3 separate regions of the Homo sapiens genome follow, and all the other regions are linked to region 1. The links come from fine-mapping of genetic effects on gene expression. A gene starts in region 1. Each other region holds a variant in brackets. All regions are shown on one strand. Distances are from middle to middle. Region 1 holds the start of LINC01081 (long intergenic non-protein coding RNA 1081). Region 2 holds the start of LOC124903744 (a long non-coding RNA gene). Region 3 has its middle 18 kb from the start of LINC00917.

Region 1 (2,848 bases):
GGGCTCCCGGAGTAAAGCCTGAGGAACTCCACCTTTACAAGGTGATCTTCAGCGTTCAACAAACTTTGCTTCTCTGGCCACCTCCTTAATCAACTGCAGCCTTTTTCTATTTCTAGCCTGAAACAAACTCCACAAACACTGGCTCTTTCTTCATCTTCCTCCCTTTCCAATGATAATACTGGACAAAAATGGGACAATCTGTAATTTTTGCCCATTTTCTTAGGAATTTTTCCCCTCTAGTTAAAAATCAATCAATCAATCACACACACACACACACACACACACACACGCACGCACGCACGCACGCACACCATGAATTGAGTCAGGGTTCCCTCTGATCATCCCCACCGCGCTCTTCCTTTTGTCTGAAAGGGGCTGGGCAATGATAATTGTGCTTCTGGGGTGAGAGGTGTGGTGTGGGGGGATTCGCAGCAGAGGCTGCGGCAGCTGGTGGGGGGTCCTCCTTCCTGGTCCTCCGATGACTCCGACGACGACGAGGAGCTCTGAAGGGAGACCAGGAGGCGTCTCCACTGACCATGGGGCCCAGCAGCGCGGGGCCCGGGGCCAGCCCCGACCTTCCCCTCCACCAGCGGACGGACCCACAGCCTGAAGGCGGCTGGCACCAGAGGGGCCCCGGCAGGAGCCGATGGGCTGCGAGCGCGCTGGCGAGGGGCGCAGGAGAATGGAACGGGGACAGGGGAGAGGCAGAAGGAGGAGGAGAGGGAAGCCTGGAGAAGAGGAGAGCGCAGAACTGAGGAGCGGGGCAGAAAACAGAGGGAGAGTTGCAGACCGGGCTGAGCTGCAGCGGAGCGCGGGAGTGAGCGGCGGCGGGAAAGCTGGGGTTAGGGGGCCAGGACGTCGCGGGCGAGGGGCGGTGGTGAGTGCAGCCCAAGGGCGCACCGTCCCTGCAACAGCTTCGCGGGCGGGAACAGCAGGAAGGAGTGAGCCTTGGGCGGGCGGTGGGTTTCAGAGGAGGGAGGGCCGAGCAGCTGCAGGGGACAGAGGGGCAGAAAGACAGGGAGGCGGGGAGAAGGTAGGGAGCGGTTCTGGGTAACTACTTCGCTTCGGAAACCGCCCGGGTCTCAGGCCCCAAGGGCATCCCCCTCCTCCCAGATCCCCGTCTTGGGTCCCTGGACCCAAGTCCCGTGGAAGGCGACACCCGCGTCCCAGACCGCCGCGGCGGCTGCTGCCCCCACACGTCTGGTTCGGCTGGCTCTCCCCTGCGAGGGTCGGGGTTTCTGGAGCCCTGCGCACTGGGCTCCCCTTGCCCGCAGCGCCCCTGCGGCCCCTCCTCCCGCTGGCCTGGGATCCCGGAGACGCAGGACGACCTCGGTGCGCGAAGGGGCGGGGGGCGCGTGGGGTCCCTGGGGGCACACCTGCTCACTCATCCCTTCCCGTCTGAGGTCTTCGCTGATGCCAGCTTCACAGGCACGGGCATCAAGGCCCTGAGACGGGAGAAAGGGTAGGCCTCGCAGGTGCACGTGGGAGAGGCTGCACCTAAGCCCCCGCACCAGCCCTGGACCACCAGGGCGCAGGGCCCGAGGTGCGTGACAAAGGGGTGACCTCACCTGTAACAAGTGAACAAGCGTTGACACCCGCGCAGGCTCCAGTGTTCCAACGGCGGAGTCATATGAATCATCCTGATGCTTAATAAACAGATCCCAGAAGGAGCCTGGACATATTAGATCAGAACTTCCCAGGGAGCGGCCCAGGGATCTGGATTTCCAGTGCATGCCCTGCGGTGACCCTCACTCCAGAAAGCTCAGGCCCCACTGAGCTCCAGTGTTCTATCTCCAGACATGGATTACACCCGGGGCTACACAGCGAGACAGCGAACCTGTGCTGGGTCACCAGGTTGAGGGTGGTGGTGAGGTTAGTCTCAAAGCCCAGCCTAGTGGGGCTTCATGGCTCTGTTTTAGCCAAGGGGCTCTTGGATTGTCCCCGGAGGGGTCAAGGGTCTTTCCGCTGTCCTATTCAAAGTGTTTTAGGGTGAAATAATCATGATAATAGTCACAGCACCTGCTACGAATGAAGCAGGCGCTTATAGTCTAGAGAGCTACGGACTTTTGTGAATATTCTGTTTTAATCCTCACAATTGACCTTGGGAGGAAGGTACTATTTATCATCGCACTTCACTGATATGCAAACTGAGGTGCGACCAGGTTATTTTATTTTCTCCAAGTCCTGAAATGGTGCGCTGGGGCTCCCCAGCTCTACCCACAGGTACCTGCCTCCCTCCGGAAGGTGTGGACAGCACAGTGGTGGGCGGCCCAGCCCGGAGGGGGGACTTTGTGCTTCCATAGGAAGGGGTCTCAGAGCCTAGCATCTGGGTGTCCACCCAGGAAGGTGGGTGGGGCACAAGGTGGTCTCTGTTGTCCCTGCAGCTTCTGGGAACCCAGATGAAAGGCAGGAGTGTGGAGCACAGACCTGGGGTCTCTGTAGAATGTGCTGGAGGGTACCAGGAGCTAAAACTATGTGGAGCTGGGTGGGCCCAATAGAGGAGAAGGGAATAGGGGAGGGAGATTCATGAACTAAGTCCAGAGGTGGGGGATGGGAAGGGGAGGAAAGAGCTGATGGCTTTGGAACAGTGCTACTGAGAGAGGCAGGCACTGGGTCTCGGCACCACAGCGTGCCTTTGGTGGTCTCAGGTTCCATACAGGAACCCTGAAACGAAACAGGGAATGCCCTAAAGTGGCACCTCATATACTCTCCAGGTTTCTGGCAGCTCAGCAGTTGGGCTGGGGGTGCTTTCCTGTGCCCAATCCCTGGCACCCTTCCCACACCACCCCCACCCCCATAATGCAGCAGCAGAGAACCTCCATCTCACCGATGGGGGAACTGAGGCCCA
Region 2 (2,500 bases), 64 kb after region 1:
TCCTTAGGGAGACTGAGAATTGCAACCTGATTGCCCAGGAATGGAGTGGAGGGTCTGGGCTTTGGTCCTGACACCCTGATTTGCCACTGCTCCGTGCCACCTCCTCCCCTGTACTTTGCTCCTGGGTCTCACTCGAGCTTACCCTCTCTGAAACTCAGTTTCCTCATCTGCGAAACACACAGATTCATCAAGAGCTGTGGTTCTCACTAAAGGGTGATTTTGCCCCCAGGGACATTCAGTGGTGTCATCACCATGAGGGGGGTGCTACTGGCACCTGGTGAGTGGAGGCCAGGGATGCTGCCCAACATCCTGCAGCGCACAGGACAGCCCAGATTCTCCATCAGCAGTGCCCAGGTGGAGAAGCCCTGACCTCGATGATCCCAAGCTCCCAGAAATTGTAACTAAACTCCCAAAGCTTGTCAGAAAACGAATTCTCTGTCAAAATCCCTAAAAGGAAAGAAAAAAAAATCCTTTCTCTGCTTTCCCAACTCCAGCCCAGTCTCACACACATGAACCTCTGCAAAGATGGAGCCAGGGAGGCTTGAACACAGTTGTGTTCCAGACAGAAAATGACTTAATTCTCCAGAATGGACCCCTATTTTATGCTATTTAATATCTGCACACGATTCCAGACCCTTTCTTACTGCTGTTCAGAGCAAGACAGTAATTTCATTCTTTTTCTTTTTCCTTTTTTTTTCCTGCTCCCTGCTGCCCTCACATTGAAACTCCGTGAACTCTGGCGTCGGTTGTAAGAACGTCTTTATAAAGGGTTGCACGAGATTTCTTACTATATCAGAGTTCCTGAGGATGATGTATCACGTTACTAATTCCCTTAATTGCATGTCTGGGCTAAAAACAGACTCTCTTAGTTTTTCTAAGAAGTTACATTCTTAATGACATTAAAACACGATGGTAAATGAAGCTAAATGCTAACTGATGTACTTAAATCATGAATCAGTCTATAGAGTGTTTACCTAAACTTGTTTATCCTTCTTGGTCACTCATTTTGTAGGTTTTGCCAACACTGAGTCAGATTCGGTATCTGGAAATGGCTCAAGAATTTTTGTTTTCTTTCGATTTTTTAGCCCCAGACTGAGTGGATGCTGCAATCATGCAGTAATCAAAGAATTAGAAAAAGCAAGAGGCTGGAGGCTGATTCATTTCCCCGGCTTTTTGCAGGGTGGGGAGGACAGAGAAGCTGCAGGGAGAGATGAAGTTTTTTCCTTGAGGATGAAAAGCTCTTAACCTTGCACGTTTGGCTTCTTCTATTCAATTTTTTTAAAAGCAGAGATAGGGAGGTATGTGATTAATAGCAAAAGACAGCATTTAAGGACCGCCAGGTGCCAGGTGTTCTAAACGTGCCATGTATTTTAGCTCACAGAATCCTCCCCACAAAGCCGAGAAGCAGGAAGCAGCAACCCTCCCAGATGAAGAAGCGAAGGCTCGGAAAAGCTAAGTAACTTCTCCAAGCTGACGCAGCTCGTGAGAGGAGGGACTGGGATTCAAATCCCTGCAGGGGGAGACCAGCAGCCCCGACTT[C/T]AGCCGCCATGCCTCCTGCCTGAGAAGCTAGCTGCGAAGGTTCCAGAAGGAGACTGCCCTCCGGGAACAGAAACAGCGCATGACTGCGACCTGTCTGCAAAAATCTTGATCACTTGTAAATCCTTCTCCACCTGATAAGTTATCACATTGGCTCATGATGTTTTTTTTCATTCTCAGTGAGTTCAAAATACTATTTTGGTTTGTCTCAGTTTCTTCCTCTCTCTCTCTCTCTCTCTCTCTCTCTCTCGTATAAAGGTATCCACATGTCACATGTCATTTGTTGATAATTAAATTTTGAATAGACAATTCATTGTCAAAACCATCAAACAGTATACTACATGTCTGCATTTGACTCTATATACATTTTACCTAACAAGGAAAGCCCATAAACAAATACGAAAGTCTGGCTAATGATCCACATACAGAAGTGTTTGGGAGGATGGGCTCTGAGATCTACAGCTTACTTTGAAAGGCATCAAAGTGTATTGACGGACGTCTGGATGGATGGAGGGATAGACGTGTGTTAAACTAAACAGACCAACATGGCAATTACAGAAACTAGATGATAAGTACATCGATGCTCACTGTACAATTCTTCATGTTGCTAATTTTCATTAACATGTTCAAAAATTCTGAATACAGACACTAGGTAGAAACTCCAAAGACACAAGTTAAATGTAAGTAAGTCTTCCTCCACCTCATCCTGTCTGTCAGTCTTTCGGGTTCCCTAACAATGGCAATGGCAATCCCTAGTACCTGTGGCTCTGGGGTATCATTCCAGGGATATTCTATGCCTGTTTTAACACATAGATGATTTATTTTCAGTGATGATAATGATAACTAATAATTATGCCGCACTTGCTACATGCCAAGCACTGTCCTGTTTAACATACATTGATTTATGAAATCTCTTCAACAGCCCTATGGCGTGGATGCTGTTACTACCCCATTTTACAAAGGA
Region 3 (2,848 bases), 41 kb before region 1:
TTTACCCTCCTACTTTATGAGAACACTGGAGGCAACTTCTGTAGGGACCACGGGGACAATAATAATATCTGGATGATGGACACCCATAGATCAAATGCAGTGAGTGGTTTTCCATGCTACAAACACCCTGACGGCATAGAATAATATTACAGAGTTCAACTGAGGCAAATGTAATACTGGTTTCCTCAGGACCTTCCTGAATTACGGCTGCGGTCCCGGCACACTCATCACAGTGGGCCCTTTACTTGAAAAATGTCTCACTTTGATGATAAATTATAAGATAACCTTAGCTATACATTGCTTATTTTACTAAATCACGTATTTTAAAGTAAATACTATGTCACTTATTTTATTTATTTATTTAATGAGATGGAGTTTTACTCTTGTTGCCCAGGCTGAAGTGCGGTGGCATGATCTTGGCTCACTGCAGCCTCATGCCCCAAATCCCCACAACATGCTTTCAATGCTTGCTTTCAATTTGGAAACCTCCATCAACAAAAAGAGGTAGAAACCACACAAAGACAGGGGGCTTACCAGCCAGTGATCTAAGCCGGCTGCCAGTAGCCCCTATGGCATCTTTGTGCAAATTAGAAAAAGGTGCTTTTTCTCCTGACATATCTAGCCCTGAGCCAGGTGCAAGGCCTGGGGAGTGCAGGATGGGCTGGCCTTCAACCCCCACGTGTCTCCTTGGCCAGGCACCTTGGGCAGTAAACAACCTGCACAACCAAACCCAGCAGCCCAGAGTCCAAGAGAGTCCTGGATGTTTTCTTACTGCCTTTCACAAAGAGTTTTACTGTCAGTTCACAAAGAATAATGAAAGGCAATTGCAGGGCCAACTGGTAGCATTTGGCTGTGTGTCTGATGTCGGTTCCTTGACATCCTGGCTTTCATGAATTGGTATCACTTGGGCGGGCTCACCCTTTTGCTACAGAAGAACCAAGTTAAAAGGCGGGCCATGGTGGCTCACGCCTGTAATCCCAGCACTTTGGGAGGCAGAGGCGGGTGGATCATGAGGTCAGGAGTTCAAGACCAGCCTGGCCAAGATGGTGAAACACTGTTTCTACTAAAAATACAAAAATCAGCCAGGCGTAGTGACAGGCACCGATAATCCCAGCTATTCAGGAGGCTGAGGCAGGAAATTGCTGGAATCTGGGAGGCAGAGGTTGCAGTGAGCCAAAATTGTGGCACTGCACTCCAGCCTGGGTGAAAGAGCGAGACTCTGTCTCAAAAGAAAAAAAAAAAAGAAAAGAAAAGAGGCCTCTTGTTGGTTCCTTCCCTTTCTTTGCATTGCTGAGGGAGTGGAAAGAGTAAAGAACGGCCCCATCTGAAACCCACTCTCAGTGGGAAGCTCTGGCATGGATGCTGGTGTTTGTGGGGCTGCTGTGATGACTCCATGGCCAGGGCGTTGGTCAGGTGCAACTCCGGGAATGGGGAGTGTTCTGGCCTCAGGCCGTGAACGTCTGGGAATGTGGGAGGCACCATGGAACCTTAGACGGCAGAGACAAGCTGCGAGGAAAAGCATGGAGGAGGTGGGCGTGCGCAGAGGCAGCTTGGACTCCAGGCAAGGAGGTGGCCCCACTGTCTCATGCACGTTCATTTTTAACTCTGTTTCACAGAAGAAGAAACTGAGGCTCAGGAGGTGATGAGGCAGCTTGGCTAAAGTCCCATGGAAGTGGCCACACAGCAAGTAAGTGG[C/T]CAGGATTTGAATCCAGAGCCAGCACATTTAGCCCTTGGCTGCCGTCCTCTGGCCGTGGCATTGCTGTGAGCCCTCTTAGGATTCTTTTCACCAGTTAGAGCTGTGGCCCCGCATCTTTGGTTTATCTTGAGTAACAAAGTCGGAAATAGACAAATGTGATCTTTGAAGTCCTGGGGACAACATTCAGCATGGCATCTACTATGTCAAGGGCTTCCTCTCGGATTGCAGTGTCGGGCATGAGGGTACATTGCATGTATGCCAAGCAACATTTTTGTTTTCTATATTTAAACTTTGCGCCCCCCCGCCCCCCACAGACACACACACTGAAATCCTGGAAGAAGCTACCTTATTTCTCTTGTGTTTTGGCTCTTAGGAAACTCAGAGGCGAATTTATGACCATTTGGAAATTGTATATAACTTTAAATTAGGAACTTCTATGTCTACATTATCCCAAACTTCATTCTACTATTCAATTCTCATCTCCCTTATTTCCACAGTGCTTATTTCTCATAGATTGATAGATAGATAGATGATTGATAGATAGATAATGATATGAAAGTGAATGGTGTATTTTTAAGTATTCAAATAACAGATAAAGTGATAGACTAAAATTTCCTACAAATAAAAACAATTTTAATCCTACTGTGCACTAGGGTAAGGTTACAATTTAAATAGCACAGCCAGGCACGGTGGCTCATGCCTGTAATCCCAGTACTTTGTGGGGCCGAGGCAGGTGGATCGCTTGAGGTCAGGAGTTCAAGACCAGCCTGACCAACATGATGAAACCTCGTCTCTACTAAAAATACAAAAATCAGCCAGGCGTAGTGGTGGGTGCCTGTAATCCCAGCCACTTGGGAGGCTGAGGCAGGAGAATTGCTTGAACCCAAGAGGCGGAGGTTGCAGTGAGCTGAGAACATGTCACTGCACTCCAGCTCCAGGTGACAGAGCGAGACATTATCTCAAAAAAAAAAAAATAATTAAATAACACAAGAACCCTGTCACTGAGAAAAAAAGACATAATTAAATAAGAAAGAGAAGCATGTGAGCAATGTAACAGAGTGCAGAAGCTCTGGCATAGGCTGTATTTGGCTGCTGCTATGTACTGTATGCTTTACATGTATCATCACACCTCACTTTACACGTGTCATCCTG

What was found. PIP is the estimated chance that this variant, and not a neighbour inherited with it, causes the effect.
Region 2: its variant is fine-mapped to the expression of LINC01081 in stomach (GTEx, PIP above 0.99).
Region 3: its variant is fine-mapped to the expression of LINC01081 in testis (GTEx, PIP above 0.99).

Annotation. Positions count from the first base shown.
Region 1 is chr16:86,285,078-86,287,925 of GRCh38, reverse strand. LINC01081 (long intergenic non-protein coding RNA 1081) reads left to right here and starts at 1,679. Exons shown (of 6, transcript NR_104139.1): 1 at 1,679-1,872. LINC02135 (long intergenic non-protein coding RNA 2135) reads right to left here and starts at 1,495. Exons shown (of 3, transcript NR_038438.1): 1 at 1,377-1,495. RefSeq lists an enhancer at 2,090-2,775.
Region 2 is chr16:86,221,732-86,224,231 of GRCh38, reverse strand. LOC124903744 (a long non-coding RNA gene) reads left to right here and starts at 1,160. Exons shown (of 3, transcript XR_007065165.1): 1 at 1,160-1,298; 2 at 1,375-1,715; 3 at 2,459-2,500. The variant C/T (reference allele first, on the strand shown) is at 1,540.
Region 3 is chr16:86,326,133-86,328,980 of GRCh38, reverse strand. No RefSeq gene overlaps it. Among named protein-coding and RNA genes, the nearest start is that of LINC00917, 18 kb to the left of the region's middle. The variant C/T (reference allele first, on the strand shown) is at 1,696.